Homo sapiens: one gene and its partners. The protein of the gene in region 3 purifies or fractionates together with the protein of the main gene of each other region. This does not show direct contact. Each region holds a gene or a part of one and is shown on either strand. Other genes may lie near its edges.

Evidence for each region.
Region 1: the proteins of CDC37L1 (region 3) and GLMN purify together in Homo sapiens (affinity purification with mass spectrometry; one study listed by BioGRID and IntAct). This does not show direct contact.
Region 2: the proteins of CDC37L1 (region 3) and TTC4 purify together in Homo sapiens (affinity purification with mass spectrometry; one study listed by BioGRID and IntAct). This does not show direct contact.
Region 4: the proteins of CDC37L1 (region 3) and TOMM34 purify together in Homo sapiens (affinity purification with mass spectrometry; one study listed by BioGRID and IntAct). This does not show direct contact.

What each region holds. Positions count from the first base shown.
Region 1 is NC_000001.11:92,271,488-92,274,987, forward strand, and holds part of GLMN (glomulin), read right to left. Parts: intron 166-3,500; coding exon 1-165.
Region 2 is NC_000001.11:54,714,727-54,718,660, reverse strand, and holds the start of TTC4 (tetratricopeptide repeat protein 4), read right to left. Parts: upstream 2,801-3,934; 5' UTR 2,753-2,800; coding exon 2,642-2,752; intron 2,062-2,641; coding exon 1,944-2,061; intron 1,170-1,943; coding exon 1,008-1,169; intron 1-1,007.
Region 3 is NC_000009.12:4,695,709-4,700,616, reverse strand, and holds part of CDC37L1 (hsp90 co-chaperone Cdc37-like 1), read right to left. Parts: exon of another isoform or gene 3,522-4,908; coding exon 3,406-3,521; intron 2,861-3,405; coding exon 2,738-2,860; intron 1-2,737. UniProt on the Homo sapiens protein: Co-chaperone that binds to numerous proteins and promotes their interaction with Hsp70 and Hsp90.
Region 4 is NC_000020.11:44,953,898-44,957,397, forward strand, and holds part of TOMM34 (mitochondrial import receptor subunit TOM34), read right to left. Parts: intron 2,589-3,500; coding exon 2,489-2,588; intron 1,724-2,488; exon of another isoform or gene 1,324-1,723; coding exon 1,171-1,323; intron 1-1,170. UniProt on the Homo sapiens protein: Plays a role in the import of cytosolically synthesized preproteins into mitochondria. Binds the mature portion of precursor proteins. Interacts with cellular components, and possesses weak ATPase activity.

The DNA.
Region 1 (3,500 bases), on a different chromosome or scaffold from region 3:
AATATGGATGCCCTGTACAAATACTAGATATGCCAGAGAAGCCATTGAGTCTGCTAACTGTTTATTTTCTTCTTCTTCAAATTCAAGGTAATTCCAAGTTCTCTTTTTCCTTCCATGATTAAAAATCATTTTGGGGAAAGGGTGTCCAATTGCTGATAAAAAACCCTATGAAATGGATAAAAAAGGAAACCATAGCACACAGACTCTAAAATGCCCCCCACCCCGTGTATTCAAACTCCACATTCTCACCAAGGGGAGGTGTAATCACTCCCTTTGAGCGTGAGTGGGACCTATGAGACTTGCTTTCAACCAACAGAATGCGCCAAGATGTCACTCCCATGATTAGATTATATGACAAAAGTGAAGGGGTTTTTGCAGATGTAATTAAGGTCCCAAATCAGTAGATTTTGAGTTGGGTGGCCCTAACTTAATCAGGTATATTTTTAAAGGGGGTCCAGGCCTTCCCTGAGAGTCAGAAACTTTGCTCTCTGACTCTCTCCCTTGCTGGCTTTAAAGAACTAAGCTGCCATGTTATGAGAAGGCTCATGGACAGAACTACATGGCAAGGGACCAACTACAGGCAGCTCCTAGAAGCTAAATGTGGTCCCTGGCTGACAGCCAGCAAGAAAATGGGGACCTCAGTCCTACAGCTTAGAGGAAATGAATTCTGCCAGCGGAGGAAACCTGAAAGTGGATCTTTCCCCAGTTAAGCTTCTGATAAGACTACAGACCCAGTCAACAACTGGCCTGTAGCCCAATGAGACCCTGAGCAGAGGACCCAATTAAGCTGTGGCTGGACTCCTGATCCATAGAAACTGTGAGATAACAAAGGTATGCTGTTTTAAACTGCTAAGTTTGCAGGAATTTGTTATACAGCAATGAAAAACTAATACAGAAGCCAACAGCAAAATCGTATTTTACATAGCATTTTATACATCAGAAGTATTCTAAATTAATTCAGAATCATAGTTTAAAAAGTTTAAAATGATGAATTTTATGTATATTTCACCACAATTTTTTTTAAAAAAGTGCTTCAGGGATATTTGAGAGCAATCTGAAACGTGAGACATACAAATATATGAAGCAAGGGTAAAGCAACTAAGATGAAGAATACTCTAGGAACAATGCTCCACTAACATTGTGCCTGTAGAGAGTGGGATGCAGGAACGCTGGGCAGGGCAGCTGGGCCTGAGGAAACACTGTTGATCTCTCAGTCATCAGGGTTCTCATGTGAGACGAGAAAGAGAAGCATCCTTGCATGAGTGGGTAGGACCACAGGGCTAAATAAAGCTTTCCGCTCAGGAAACAAGATCACTCCTATGCCTCTTATACTGGTACTAATTCTAGCGTACCAGAAAGCACCTACCTTCAGAATCCACTGACATTGATTTTGAGTTTTGGCTCTACCATTTACTACTTGTGTGACACTGGATGAGCCATAAAATGACATAATACCTATGTCAAATATTTATCGAGCAGCTCCACAAAAAAAGCGTAAGAAAGTTAAAGTCACAACAAACTACAAGAGTTAAAAGGGAATGAATGACAAAAACAGCTAAAGCAGAATGAATAACTTCCACACAAGTCACTCTTTTATTCAATAAACACTTAAGTGCAAGGTGCTGGGCCTGACTTTGTGGGGAATTATAAAGCCAAGTATAAGTCTTTTCCAGCCTTCAGGGACTTAAAATCTGCTGATCCCAGATGGTTCCATTAGTCATTTCAGAATACAAAAAGGAACCATGGAAAATCATCCTCAGTCACAAGAGACTGCTATTCAGCGACCAGATGCTAAATATATACTGCTGCAGTGATTTTCAAAGCCATGCATTCTGGTTATAGCTACAAGACAAAAAGTTTATTGCACTCTGATTCCAAATGTCCTTAATCATGAAGCTCCATTTCTTTATTCAGCCAATGCTACATGTGTTTTTTCCAGAGTAAGGTAGCCCTGTTTTTTTTTTTTTTTTTTTTGGCGACAAGGTCTCACTCTGTCACTCAGGCTGGAGTGTAGTGGCATGATCATGGCTTACTGCAGCCTTGACTTCCCCAGGCTCAAGCAATCCACCCTCCTCAGTCTCCTGAGTAGCTAGGACTACTGGTACATGCCACCATGCCCGCTATTTTTTTTTTATTTTTTTTATTTTTTATAGAGATGGGGTTTCGCCATGCAGCCCAGGCTGGTCTTGAACTCCTGGGCTTAAGTGATCTGCCCACCTTGGCCTCCCAAAGGCCTGGGCCTACAAGCGGGAGCTACCGTGCCCAGCCTAAGATACCCTTTTTAAAACATTATTATATGCAACTAGATTCTACAGTGCTGCTCTGGATATCTGAGATCCAATCTGTTCCCAAATCTGGGCCTTCACTATCTATCCACACACCATCCAGCAGTCTTGCTCAGATCCAGGCTGTACCTGGCACCATACAATTTCTCAATATTCATGGCAGCTTTTGTCCTTTCAGAAATGTTCCTGTACTACAGCCTTTGGGACATTCTAGTAGTTCTGTACCAAAATAACTTGTACCAAAGTGAGGATGGCTGAGGCCTGTGAATCCCAACCACACCACACTTACCAGTACTTCTCCAGCACAGAACAGAAGACATCTCCTCATTTCATCTCCAAGCTGGTCTCACCTCTACTTCTAGACTGCTACGTGCATCCTTACTGCTGGCTCTTTCTACTTGCAATGTTCCTTCTACTGAGATTTTAGAACCACTCACCTACATCCTCAGTCTCTTCATAGGATGCTTGTTCTGCCTCACTGCTTTAACTAAACCTGTCTGATTTCTGGTGGGAGATGCTCATTCTCACACCTTTTATACCACAGGGCCTGGAATGCAGCTGTTGGGTAGAGGAGTACAGGTAGGGGCTTAGCACAGTATTGTAGTATTGGCTTTTTCTGTACTTTTCAACAAAAGCACATTTTCCTTTGATGCAGATAACATACTGTCCTTTTCTCTGTCATATGCTGACTTCCTGGTAATTTCCTGACATTCACTGAAGACTCTGGCACCTTCTCATAATCTTTTTCTCTACCCAATTCCTGCTATGATCCTGGGAAAATTCAATGTTCATGGAGATAACCCCTATAACAGGCTAGTCTCATGGTCCTTTATTATTATTAATTTATTTTTCAATCAAGCAACAAGTCATTGCATCCACTCTCATGGTTCTCAATTTCTAAATTCTAGTGACTTTTAGTTCTAATCCATTTCAGTACCTAATCCCATGCTGGATCTCTGAACATCTGGAACTATTCTGTATTTGATACTTTAAACTCCAATATCCCATTTTCTGACCAAAATCTGTCATCCTGTCTCTCCTAGCAATCTGCTTTTCTACTTCTGACTTCTCCAGTCCTGTGATTCCTACATTTTGACCTACCTAGGCATTCCCTCCTAACCCCCCTTCTTTCCCTATCCAACCTGAATCATGGATTATTGACCAGCTGAACTATCTGCACCCTGTATTTCCTTCAGCAGTATCTACCCAGTAAAA
Region 2 (3,934 bases), on a different chromosome or scaffold from region 3:
AAATTTGAGAAACCCAGGGTAAATTTATTTTCTTGCAGGCTATCTCAGTGTCTTTAACATGTTAACATGTACTGTAAATCTCTAAGAAGCAGCATTTTCCAAACTTCCTCAATCTCCTGGGTGCGGTGGCTCACACCTGTAATTCCAATACTTTGGGAGGCTGAGGCGGATGGATCACTTGAGCCCAATTTCGAGACCAGCCCGGGCAACATGGCAAAACCCTGTCTCTACAAAAAAATGTAATAAAGTAAAAAATATGAATAAATAAATGAGTTAAAATTCCTCATCCAAGCAACTTTTTAGAAACAGGGTCTCACTTTGTCACCCAGGCTGGAGTGCAGTGGTGTGATTATGGCTCCCTGTAGCCTTGAGCGATCCTCGTGCCTCAGCCTCCCAAGTAGCTAGGACTACAGGCAGGCACCACCATGCCCAGCTAAATTTTTGGAGAGACAGGGTCTCACTATATTGCCCAGGTTGGTCTTGAACTCCTGGCCTCAGGCGATCCTCCTGTCTCAGCCTCCCAAAGTGCTTGGATTACAGGTATGAGCCACTGCACCCAACCAAAAAATATTTTTAACTCAAAGGTCCCACAGAACGCTTTGAGATATTCTCCCTTAGATTAAAATAGCTTATCTCACCTAAAGATCTCTACTGCCTTACTCCTGCTAGCATCCTTGAAAAGAGGATAAAAGGCCAGAAAAACACATTTTTTGAGAGAGTAGAAGCCCTTGGGCTCAAAAATCTCAGAACATACTGCCTCATACATCAAACACCTTACTTGAGTGACCAAGTCACTTTTTGGGTTGAGACAGTAAGAATTACACAATCCATCCTGTTTCTCTTTTCATCATGTCAACTTGGAAGACCAGAGTTCAATCAGAGTAAACTATCCTTAGTCTGGGTTTCTGGGATAACAGCCCCTCATCCTCTGATGTTCTCAAACCTCCACTAACCATCATAATGGCTTGTATCATAAGTTTATTCTTCAGAAAGCACTTATAAATTACCCAGATAGTACTGTGCTGCTGCCCGGTTGGTATAAAGGACAGCATTCAAATCAGGATCTGCACATTTCTTCTTTAAGCCTTCAGTGTATGAAATTACAGCTTTCTTGTAGTCTTTTTCTTTAAAGTAATCATTGCCCTCATCTTTATAGGTCTTGGCCTGTTCTGCAAAGAAGAGGAAAAATAATCACTATTGCTTACTTTTTAAAAGGCTCATTAAAAATAGATTCTAAATCATGTAATAATGTACTATATGACACACCAAAGCGAAGAAACCAATAGGGAAAGGAAACTCGATGTTATGATAAAAGTGGGTATCAACATGGACAAAGTCGCACAAATGTAATGCTAATTCCAAATATCTTACAAGGTAGATTACTAAGTGCTTTCCAAAAAAAAGAAGTATAAAGGAAAAAAGTACACTCATCCTAGCTGTTGAAGAAAAGAATTTTTTTTAATCACTGAAGAAATCAGTGAGGGGCAGGGGGATTGATTATACTTCTGCTTTTGCTTATGTTGTTTATTCTGTGGAGTGCAAATTCCCCTCCTCACCCTAGTAAAAGCCTACAAAATTACAAAGATTCAGCTCAAATTTCCTATCTATTGTGAATCCACTCCTGCTCCTTAAAGTGTTCCAACAGGACCCACTACAGCTGTAGTATACACCTACATGTTGACACTTATAGCATAAGTTTGTCTTGATTCTTTAAGACAAAAGGCTTCTCACTGAGCCTGACCTTGGAGGGTGGAACTGTGTCTTATTCACCCCTGTATCCCCAGTCCTTACCACTTAGTAGGTACAAAAAGAAGTATATTGGAATGAATAATGACAAGTTAGCTCAGGCTAACTACTTCTTGTTATCAATCAGAACGCTTCTAACCCACACTTAATTTCAGTTCAATGGAAACACAAAACAAATATTAGTCATGTTAAGATACCTTCTGGAGAACGCTCCTCATCAAAAATAATTGACTGGAGACAAGCCAAGTCAGGATTCTCCCTGGGATCAATTTCTGATGGCGCTCTCGACATAAATAGGGGGACCTTTTCAAATTCCTGTAAATGGTTAAGAATGAACTACATGAATAAGCTTTTCTACTGAGCAGATCCAATTCCATGACTCATTACCAAAGTTTTTTTACTCATCATGATTTGCAAATCATCACAGCTAGCTGTATCCATTCAGGCCTCCGCTTCCCTTCTGTAAAATGGGAGTGTGGTGTAATGGTCTCTAATGATTGTTTTAGTTCTCACATTCTACAAGAGCGGCAGGAATTACCATTAATTGAGCGCCCTTATGTTCTTGGCACTTTACCAACTGTCTCATTTCATCTTTGCTATTGGTGATATAGTTCGCGCAGTTTTACAGATGAGGAAACGGACTCTGAGAAGTTAAGTAACTGACTCATATCAGAGCCAGTTAAGTGGTGGAGTCACAGGCCTGACTCCAAAACCTAGGTTCTCAGCTTAAGAAGCGACTCAAAACCTCGAGGCCGATTTTCAATACTCAACTAGAAACCAGCGATCGGCTGGCAGCGCCAGGGATCTGGGATTGAAGGAGGTGCCCCAGAGCCCGGGTGCCCCACGAGTCCGGACGACGCCCCTACACACGTGGGGAGACCCCAGGACCGCCCACCTTCTCCCACTGGTCCTCATGAAAGCCGCCACGGTAAGGCTGGCTCTGGAACTTTTCCAGGAACGAGTCCATGACGTCGTCTGAGGTGGGATCCTGCCCAGGTTGTTCCATAGCTGATGCCCTGCCTTCCAGCCCGGGTCCCAGCGCCGTGAAGCGAGCGGCTCCTTCCGGCGGCGCGGGTTCCCTTCCCTCAATCCTCCCGGCAGCGCAGGTCCCCGCGCCTTGGGTTCCGCCGGCCTGGGGGCGTGGCCGGGCGTGGCCAATACGCTCCTCCCCCGGCCCGCCCTCCTCGGCAGTGCCTGGCCTCGCCCGGCCTTCGAATGCTTTTGGGGTGGTGCGTGAACCCGAATCCCCAAAGCCCCCATCTCACTTCATTCATTTGTTCGTCAGTCAGTCAACACATACTTACTTAGCTCTTTCTGCGCTTCCGGCCTGTTCTAGTGGCTGGCTATATAGCGGTGGGCAGAGCAGATGAAATCTCTGCCCTCTAGGAGTTGCTAAGGCAGTGGGGAGGAAACGACAATAGTTGAGATGTAAGAGTTTGTCAGGGGTAGCAAGAGCTATTGGGGAAAAGTTTTAAACAGGATGGGTAGACATTCTGCCAGAGGCCTGGGAGTGACTAGGAGGGGTCTGGGAAAGGCATTCCCATGGAAGGAACAGGGAACAGTCCGGAAGCCTGATGCGGGAGAGTCTTCTGTGCTTGGGGAACAGCAAGGAGGCCAGTGGGGCTGAAGCAGAGTGAGGAAGGGGGCAAGGAGATGATGAGGTGGGAGGACAAAAGGGCTGTGACTATGAGGATTTGGCTATTTCCTCAGTGGTATGGGACCTTTTGGAGAGTTTCGAGGAAAGGAGAGACTGATCAGACCTCTGTCTCTGAGCTTAGCCACCCCTAACTCCCACAGTTCAGATGGAAAAGGGTCTTCGGTCCAGGTGCTGCAGGCCTGGTTAGGCAGCCGCTGTGGCTTCCTGCAGCCTCTCTACCGGCCAGCAAATGGCTGCAGGTCCCTGCACCGGGGCTACAGCCTTGGGGAGCTCCTAGCCTGGTCTGGAATGAAAAGCAGACAGGAAGCACACCAATCTAAACTGGCATTGGGTCACAGGTCTGCTCAGTGAAGGCTCAGAGGGGTGGGATTCAAGGTGATGCAGAGCTGAGATCAGAGCTGAGGAAGGTCTCTGCAGATGGATAGAGGACTCAGCGTTTTAGGCAGTGGGAGCTCATATGTGGAGAGAGGCATGGAGGTGTGCACAGGCCCGCCATGCTGGGTACTGCAAGTGTTAAGAGGTGTGTCCAGG
Region 3 (4,908 bases):
ACCAGTGCCTTTCCGTTTTACTTTGGTAAAGTAAATGTCAAACAATATATATGATTTGGCCACATTCCATTATTTTATTAAACACCAGTTTAAACACATCCATTAATGTAAGATAAAAAGGAAAGTATGTTTTTTACTACTCTTAAGTGTCAAGTAAAAATTTAGAAGAGACCGGGTGTGGTGGCTCATGTCTGTAATCCCAGTATTTTGGAAGGTTAAGGCAGGAGGACAGCTTGAGCCCAGAAGTTCGAGACCAGCCTGGGCAACACAGTGAGACCGTGTCTCTACAAAAAATTAGCTGGGGATGGTGGCATGTGCCTATAGTCCCAGCTACCTGGGAATCTGAGGCAGGAGGATTGCTTGAGCCCAGAAGTTCAAGGCTGCAGTGAGCAATGATTGCACCACTGCACTCTAGCCTGAGTGACAGAGCAGGACCTTATCTCTAAAAACAAACAAAAGTTTAGACTAGTCACCAGAAGCAGCCTAGCTAAAATATCAAGTCAAGCATTTGCTATTAAAGTTCAACTGTTTCAGGAAAATTTCATATTTTGGTTGCATTTCAGAAGAGTTTAGGGTATTTAAGTTAGGACTACTGCCACATTGAGAGTTTTTTTTTAATATAAAAATATAATTTTATGTTTATAATAGGAAATGTTCATTGTAGTACATGAAAAAGAAAACGGAAATTATTTATAATTTCACCACACAAGTATAACCAAAGTTAAACTTTTGGTATACTTCCTTTTAACTTCTAATTGTATATGTTCAAATATATCCTATGTGCAGAAGAGCATGTAAAAGATATGCGCACAGTTTATTCAGCAAAACCCCCACTATTTACCCATAGAAATTAGGATATGGATCATTACTAGGATCCTAGAAACCAGTTCCCAAGAGCATTCCCCCTCCCTCCCTGAGGTTATCATTATTGTAACTTTTGTCTTCTTAATTATTCCTTTGCTTTTTAGTTTTACTGCTTATATATGTATCCTTCAACAATATATTATTTAGTTCTGCCTGTCACTAAAAAAATACTTTATAAAAAAATACAAAATACGAACATTGATACTAGATATATCCATTTAGCATCTATCTAAACAGATACATCACTCTGTGGTTTGTTTGATTCACTCTCTTGTTTTTCCATCCATGCTGATGTTGGCTAGTATTTTACAGAATGAATATACAGGTTGAATATCTGAAATGCTTGGCACCAGAAGTTTTTCAGATTGTCAGTTTTTTCAGATCTGGGAATATTTGCATTATACTTACCAGTGAAGATCTCTAAATTGAAAACACAAAATCTGTGAGTATTTCCCTTGAGTGTCATGTCGATGCTCAAACAGTTTTGGATTTTGGAGCGTTTTGGATTTTGGATTAGGAATACTCAACCTACACCACAATTTATTTATTGTTTCCAGGCTTTTAGCTATTACAATCTACTATGAACATTACGGCAATCTAGTACATATGTGTAAGAGTTTCTCTAGCGCAGCAGTTCTCTTTACAGTCTTCAAAATTATTGAGGACCCTAAAGAGCTTCTGTTTATGTGAGTTGTATCTGTCAGTATTTACTGTTAGAAATGAAAACTGAGGAATTTTTAAAACATTAACTAAAAATAACAATGACAAACTCATTACACTACCATTAATAACATTTTTATTTAAAAAAAAAGTTTTCCAAAACAAAAAAATTTAGTGAGAAGAGAGCTGCTTTTTCCTTTAATTTTTCTAAATCTAATGTCTGACTTTACAGAAGATGGCTAGATTCTCATATTTGTACTTCCGCATTAATCTCTATTGTACACTACTGAGGAATGAAAATGAAAATTAAAAATAACATCTTGGTATTATTATGAAAATAGTTTCGACAGAGAACCTCCTGAAAAGGTCTTGAAGCCCCTCCGGGTTCCTGGACCCCACCTTGAGAATCTACTCTCTAGGATGCATACACCTAGGAGAATTTCTGGGTGTTAAGGCAGGCACTTGTTCAACTTTACTAGGAAATTTTTTAAAGTGGTTGTTCCAATTTATACTTCCACTAGCAGTGAACGCAAATTCTTATTGCCCTACTTCTTGGGCAGCTTTTAAATTACTGCAAATCTTGTGAGTGTGAAAGGTACTTAATCTTTCTAGACATCTATTTTTCTTCAACATAGCCAACATCATCTAGTATGTACTGCTTCCTGTGAATTCATAGCGTAAGCATTTCTTCAGCTCATTACAAAAGTTCCATAAATATAATTTTAAAGGGTGCATGATATTCTATGTACCATGGGTATTTTTAACTATTCCCTTAATTGCTGAATTTTTAGGTTGCTTCCTATTTTTTCTTTATAAAAGTCTGATTTCTCATTAAACTGCTGAGTTCTACACATGAAGAATCCTGTATCTATTTTGCTCAATAATGCATCCTGAGCATCTGAAACAGCTGTGCTTTGCATTAGGCACTCAGTATTTACTGAATGAATTAATGATGGAACGTAAGTTTCCTGAATACACACATTCATTTAAATGGGTCTCAATTTCATATACATGCTGTAGTACAGCCTCTTATATAGCTCTTTTAAGTTTAAATTAGCAAGAAATTAGCAATATAAATTTTCTTTTCACAAGAAAATCTACAGAATTTAGCCTGTGGCATCCTGCTTGGATGCCTTCTATTGATATGAACAGAACAAAGAGGTCTCAGCTGGGACCAAATCTTCCCATTTATCAATATCAAATAACTACTTACTTTGGCTTTCTGGAAAAATAAACGAAAACACCCTCTTGGATCCACATTACAGTTTTTGGCCATTTCCATAATAAACTGCATTACAACAGCTTGATGTGCTATTTGTTCCATTAAAGCCCCTTTCTGAAAAAGATTTAAATGATATAAGAAACAAATATATAAATATATTTAATTGGCATACTGATTCAAATTTTGAATTTTTAAAATACTTTTGATTTTACTCTCTTAAGTTATAAGTCAAATACTTTACAAACATATAAAGAGTATATCTTAGTTTTTTTTTTATTATTTGTATGTGGACCAGAATAACTAAAGGAAGACCATGCTCTGAACTTGATTTAATACCATGATTACCGTCTGGATTTTTAAAATACGACTTTCAAATTAGTTTGAAAAGGATTATAGTAATATGAAAACAAGAGAGATGGAGGTGGAGTGGCAGAGAAAGCATAGTGGAAAAGTTTCTGTATGCTAACTGAAACAACAACAACAACAAAATCCCACATTAAACTCAAGTAGATCTGGAAGCAAAAAATGGTAATTCCATCTAATGACCTTCCTGCTTTCTTTTAAAGGACTTAATGTAGAAAACAAAACAAAACATCAATAAAGTATGAAATCAGATTTCCACTAAGGTTCCCAGAAACTCAAGGTTCACATAATAATACCTTCTCAGCTTCCAGGTGAAAACACCATAAAATAAGATATTTAGCAGTTTCTTCACATACAAGGTATGGATGGTCAGACAAAAATCTCTGGCTATCATCCCATCGACTCAACATACCTGTAAAAAAAAGAATTGAACCATAAGTGTCAAATATTTTCTTTCTTCCCATAAGGGAAGAAATACCAACCATTCTTAATTCATTAATCTCTCAATGGTATTTTTAAATGATTCTCTTTAAAGACAATTCATATTACCAGAGCAACAGATTATGGTAAAAGAGCAAGTGAGGGACAGTACTCTTTAAAGCAATACTCAGTAGACTGGAAATAGCTCCTAAAATTCACAGGAAGTTTTATTTCAGATAATTAATCAGGCCAGAGTGGCCAGTTCAATATTAAAAAGTCCTACATCCATGAATGCCCGCAGTCTTGGGCAAATTGAGAGTTAGTTATGTAAGCCATTTACTCATGATGTCTGTTATAAACAAAGTCTTTTAAAAATTAGTTAAGCATATTTGAAAATGGTTGTCATTTTGTTTCAAGGTGTCAAAGAAATCCAAATACTATTTAAGTTATATCTACACCTTTATCTAAATTAGCAGGAAATTTGGTCAAAGTCAATACCACCAAGAAATCACGGAACCAGCAAAGTGTTGACTTTTTAATGTTGTCCAGTCAGTCATAACTGAATAGATTTTTTTCTTTTCTTTTTTTCTCTTCTTTTTTTTCTCCATAAAGATGAGAGGCTTATTATGTTGCTCAGGCTGGTCTTGAACTCCTGGCCTCAAGATATTCTCCTGGCTAGGCCTCCCAAAGTGCTGGGATTATGGGCATGAGCCACTGTGCCTGGCTAACTGAATAAATTCAATATAGCAATGTTAGGTTTAGATTCCTTAGACTCATGCAAAGAAGTCTGGATATTCATGGAAATTTTGTAGAGCTGACTCAAGAGTTTAGCAGTAAACTTTTCCTGTAGGTGCAAAATGAACTCCTATATATTTAATTCCACATCAGTACACAAGAAAGAACAAAACTGAAGACAAATGTCCTACTGAGAATACACAGCAACAATGTGAGTCAATCAAAAATAAATGATTCATTTTCTCCTCACTTAAAAAAAGGGGGTGGGGCCAGCCACGGTGGCTCATGCCTGCAATCCCAGCACTTTGGGAGGCCAAGGCAGGCGGATCACCTGAGGTCAGGAGTTCGAGACCAGCCTGGCCAACATGGTAAAACCCTGTCTCTACTAAAAATATAAAAATTAGTTGGGCATGGTGGCAGGTAAATCCCAGCTACTTGGAAGGCTGAGGCACAAGAATCACTTGAACCCAGGAGGCGGAGGTTGCAGCGAGCCGAGATTGCACCACAGCACTCCAGCCTGGGCGACAGAGCGAGAGACTCTGTCTCAAAGGAGATAAGCTGGGCATGGTGGCACATGCTTGTAATCTCAGCACTTTTGGAGGCTGAGGCCAGAGGAATGGTGGAGTCCAGGAGTTGCAGGCCAA
Region 4 (3,500 bases), on a different chromosome or scaffold from region 3:
TAAAGACCTTTTCATAAAGGCTGACTTGCTCAGGATTAAGTCCAAGCCCTGAACCCTGGGTCTTGTGTGACTTGGCCTCACCAACCTGTCCCAAGCTGAGCTCCTGCCTGCAGCACCATGTGAAACCGACTTCTTACAATTCCTGTGATCTGTCACACTTGCTCACCTTTGCACACGCTGCTCTGTCTTCTGGCTAACCCCCTACCCCATATCTCTCATTCTTAGCTCACCTCCTCTGAAAAGCTCTCTCTGGCCTCCCCCTCTCCCTCTCAGCTAGCTAGGTGGCTCCTTTCTGGCCTCAGAGCCCCCTGTGCTGCCTCCTACCATGGCGCTTATCATGTTGTATTGTGCTTGCCTATTACTGACTGGTGTCTTCCTTGAGACCGGGACCTCTATGACGGCAGGAAGAGGTATGTCTCAGTCATCAGCCCAGGTCCTAGAGCAAAGTCTGTCACATAATTGGTAGATTTTGTGGAATCAGATAAGTTAAAAAGGAGGCAAAGAGAAAACAAAGAATGCTGGCAGACAAGTCAAGCCAGAAATAAAGCACTAAATACATACCATGAAGTCCCTGTTAAGGGTTTGCTATTAGTGCAGTGTTTGGCTTTCTAGCCGCACACGCAGAGGGGAAACATGATCAGTTATACAAATGACAATATCCATGAGATAAAAGCCAATAACTGCTCAGAGACCAGAAAGGAATTGCACCTGGGGAACCTCTTGGATTGGTCACAGTGCAATATACTGAACCATGTCCACAAACCATATCCTTTTAGGCTTGTCATAGCTGCTTGGGCTTGTGTCTTATTCTTCTAATTAGCGTTAGCGCTTTGAAGGTAAGTGGGGTCTGTATCTCTTTCTCATTTTGGTATCCCCCACTGAACCGGGCACAACACCTTAAACAGTGTACAATAAATATTACTGTGTACATAGATACTGTGAGGCACATGTAGGCAAATATCAATCAATCAATCTTAGTAATTGACTCCCTGAAAACCTGCTAAATAAAAAAGCAGATTTTCCTTTCTCAGCTTCCCCTACATGCCCATCGGGAGTTTTTTAAGTGTAGCCAAAGGGATCCCCTCAGAAGACAGACAAGGCAATGGCCCGCAGCCAATCAAGAAGGACAGGGAGTTGCCGTGGAGACCACCTGCTGGGAATGGAGCTCACCTGTTGATGCCTTCTACGGCTGACGTCACATTATCATCAATCTGCAGCACAGTCTTATAGTCAACATAGGCCATAGGGTACTTCTCCAGAGCCTCATAAGCAGATGCTCGCCGCAGCAGGGGCTTAATGCTGAAGGGAACCAAGGCCAGTGCTCTAGAATAGGAGGCAAAAATGTCAACTGGCTGGCTGCTGAGCCACCAGGGTTTCCCTACAGTTTCTTCCAGGCAGGGTTATCTGGAGCACTCAGCGTACAGGAAGTAATTTCTGGCCGAGAGACATGGCTAAAAACGCCAAACCTCAGAACAGGGATTTTTCAACGTAGACTGAAGTGAGGAGGAGAAAGAAGGCAGAGAAACATGAATTTTGTTAAATGTGTGTGCACATGCATCAATTTTCATAGTTTCAGTTCCCCCAAAATCAAGAACAAAAGCCTCATGGCTTTCATGCTACTATGTTTTTTTACAGTTGTGGTCTAGTGGGAATAACAAACAAGCTTTGGAGTCAGATGGGGTGGTGTCTGAATTCCACCTCTGCTGCTAACTATGTGACCCAGGTAAATCACTTTACTGCCCCAACCCTCAGCAACCAAGTTCTGGCCTGGGACACATGGTAACCGTACCCCACAGATTGGTTGTGAACACTCAAAGAGGGAAATCTGGCACAAGGCATGGCACAAATTAATTCAGCACAGGCTCTGTGAGTATGCTCACACCCCTCCTGCTCTCCTGGCTATCACCAGGGCAGGAATCTAAAGCAATGTCAGAGGACATCAGATCTGAGAACACATTTCAGGTAAATGTGAGAGTTTAATGATGATAAAAGAATATTAGACTGGCTTGAAGAAAAAGAGATATGAAACATTGTTCAGTGTCCTCTAAAACTGGTCATTCATGAATACCATTTTTTTCCTTTCTCCTTCTGAGACAATCTATTAACCTCTATTCCTCCTTCTTTCCTTCGCTCCCTTCCCCTCACATACTCCCATCCCAGAAAAGCACCTGGGCAAGCCAGTTACTGGTCTGCCACTCCACCTTATTCCCAGGTTTCAAATTGCACAAAGACTTTACGGCCTGCTTCTAACTGCCCATCCCACTCCTTTTTCGGCAGCAGAGCCAAGACTCCAAAGATGCAAGTCACGGGCCATAAGGACCAAATAAAGACTCCCATTCTCAGTGACCTGGTGAAACTCAGTGACACTTTCTTAATATCTGTCCCAGATGTAATTGATGGGATCCTTCCAAAGAAGAAACAAGCCAGATTAACCCAGCCTCCTCTTCTGAGACCCTCAGGCATCCCAAAATTACCCTTGGCCACTTACGAAGTGCAATCTTTGATGCAGTCTCTGCAGTTTCCATCCTTCAAGTGACATGCTGCTCGGTTGGAGTAGAGAACACTTTCTTCTTCTGGGTCTGAAGAACCTGCCCAGATAGAGTGGGGAAGATGATCAGTTTGGAAAATGGGTGCCTCAGGGCATTAGGATACATTTCAAACTCAGAGCTCTTTGGGCCTTGTGTTAAGGCAGTAGAGATAACTATAACCTGTTCAGGCTTGTTGGTCTGCTGGGCTGGCGTGTTTGTCATTCTTATGTGACAGAAGGACACTGCGCTTTTTGCCATTCAAAGGGAACCAAGTATTTCCTCATTCACTCATTCCAGCACTGAACTTGATAACAGACAAAAGATAAACAAGAAATAGCTAGCTTCTGCCTCAAAGAAATCCATGCTGTAACTACTTGGGTTTGGGTGGATAAATGGATGGATAGGTGTGTATTTTATTACAAAAAGCATTTAAATCCAAGAAAGAAAGAAAAAAAAAAAAAGAAAAGAAAGGGAGGGAGGGAGGGAACAAGATGATAAACGTATGATAAATGGATTGACCAAAAGTTGTAGGGGCACAAAACACCCATGAAAGACATGAGACTAGTTTTACCTGGTCAAGCCAGGGAGGACTTTGTCAGGGAAATGATAATTGAGCTGGGTGTGATGGGAGTACAGAGAACTTAATCAGGAAAAAGTCTTAAGCTACCCCATGGGGAGAATTATTAGACATTCTTCTAAGGCAGTCCTTACCCTCAGGAATCGCAGAGGCTCAAGTCCTTCACTGTGGCCACCATGATCTTTATTTACGTATTTTTTTTTGAGACAGAGTCCTGCTCTGTTGCCCAGCCTGGAGTGCAGTGGAGCGATCTCCGCTCACTGCAACTCCACCTCCTGGGTTCAAGCAATTCTCCTGCCTCAGCCTCAGCCTCCTGAGTAGCTGGGATTACAGGCACTCGCCACCACGCCTGGTAGAGACAGGGTTTCACTATGTTGGCCAAGCTGGTCTTGAAC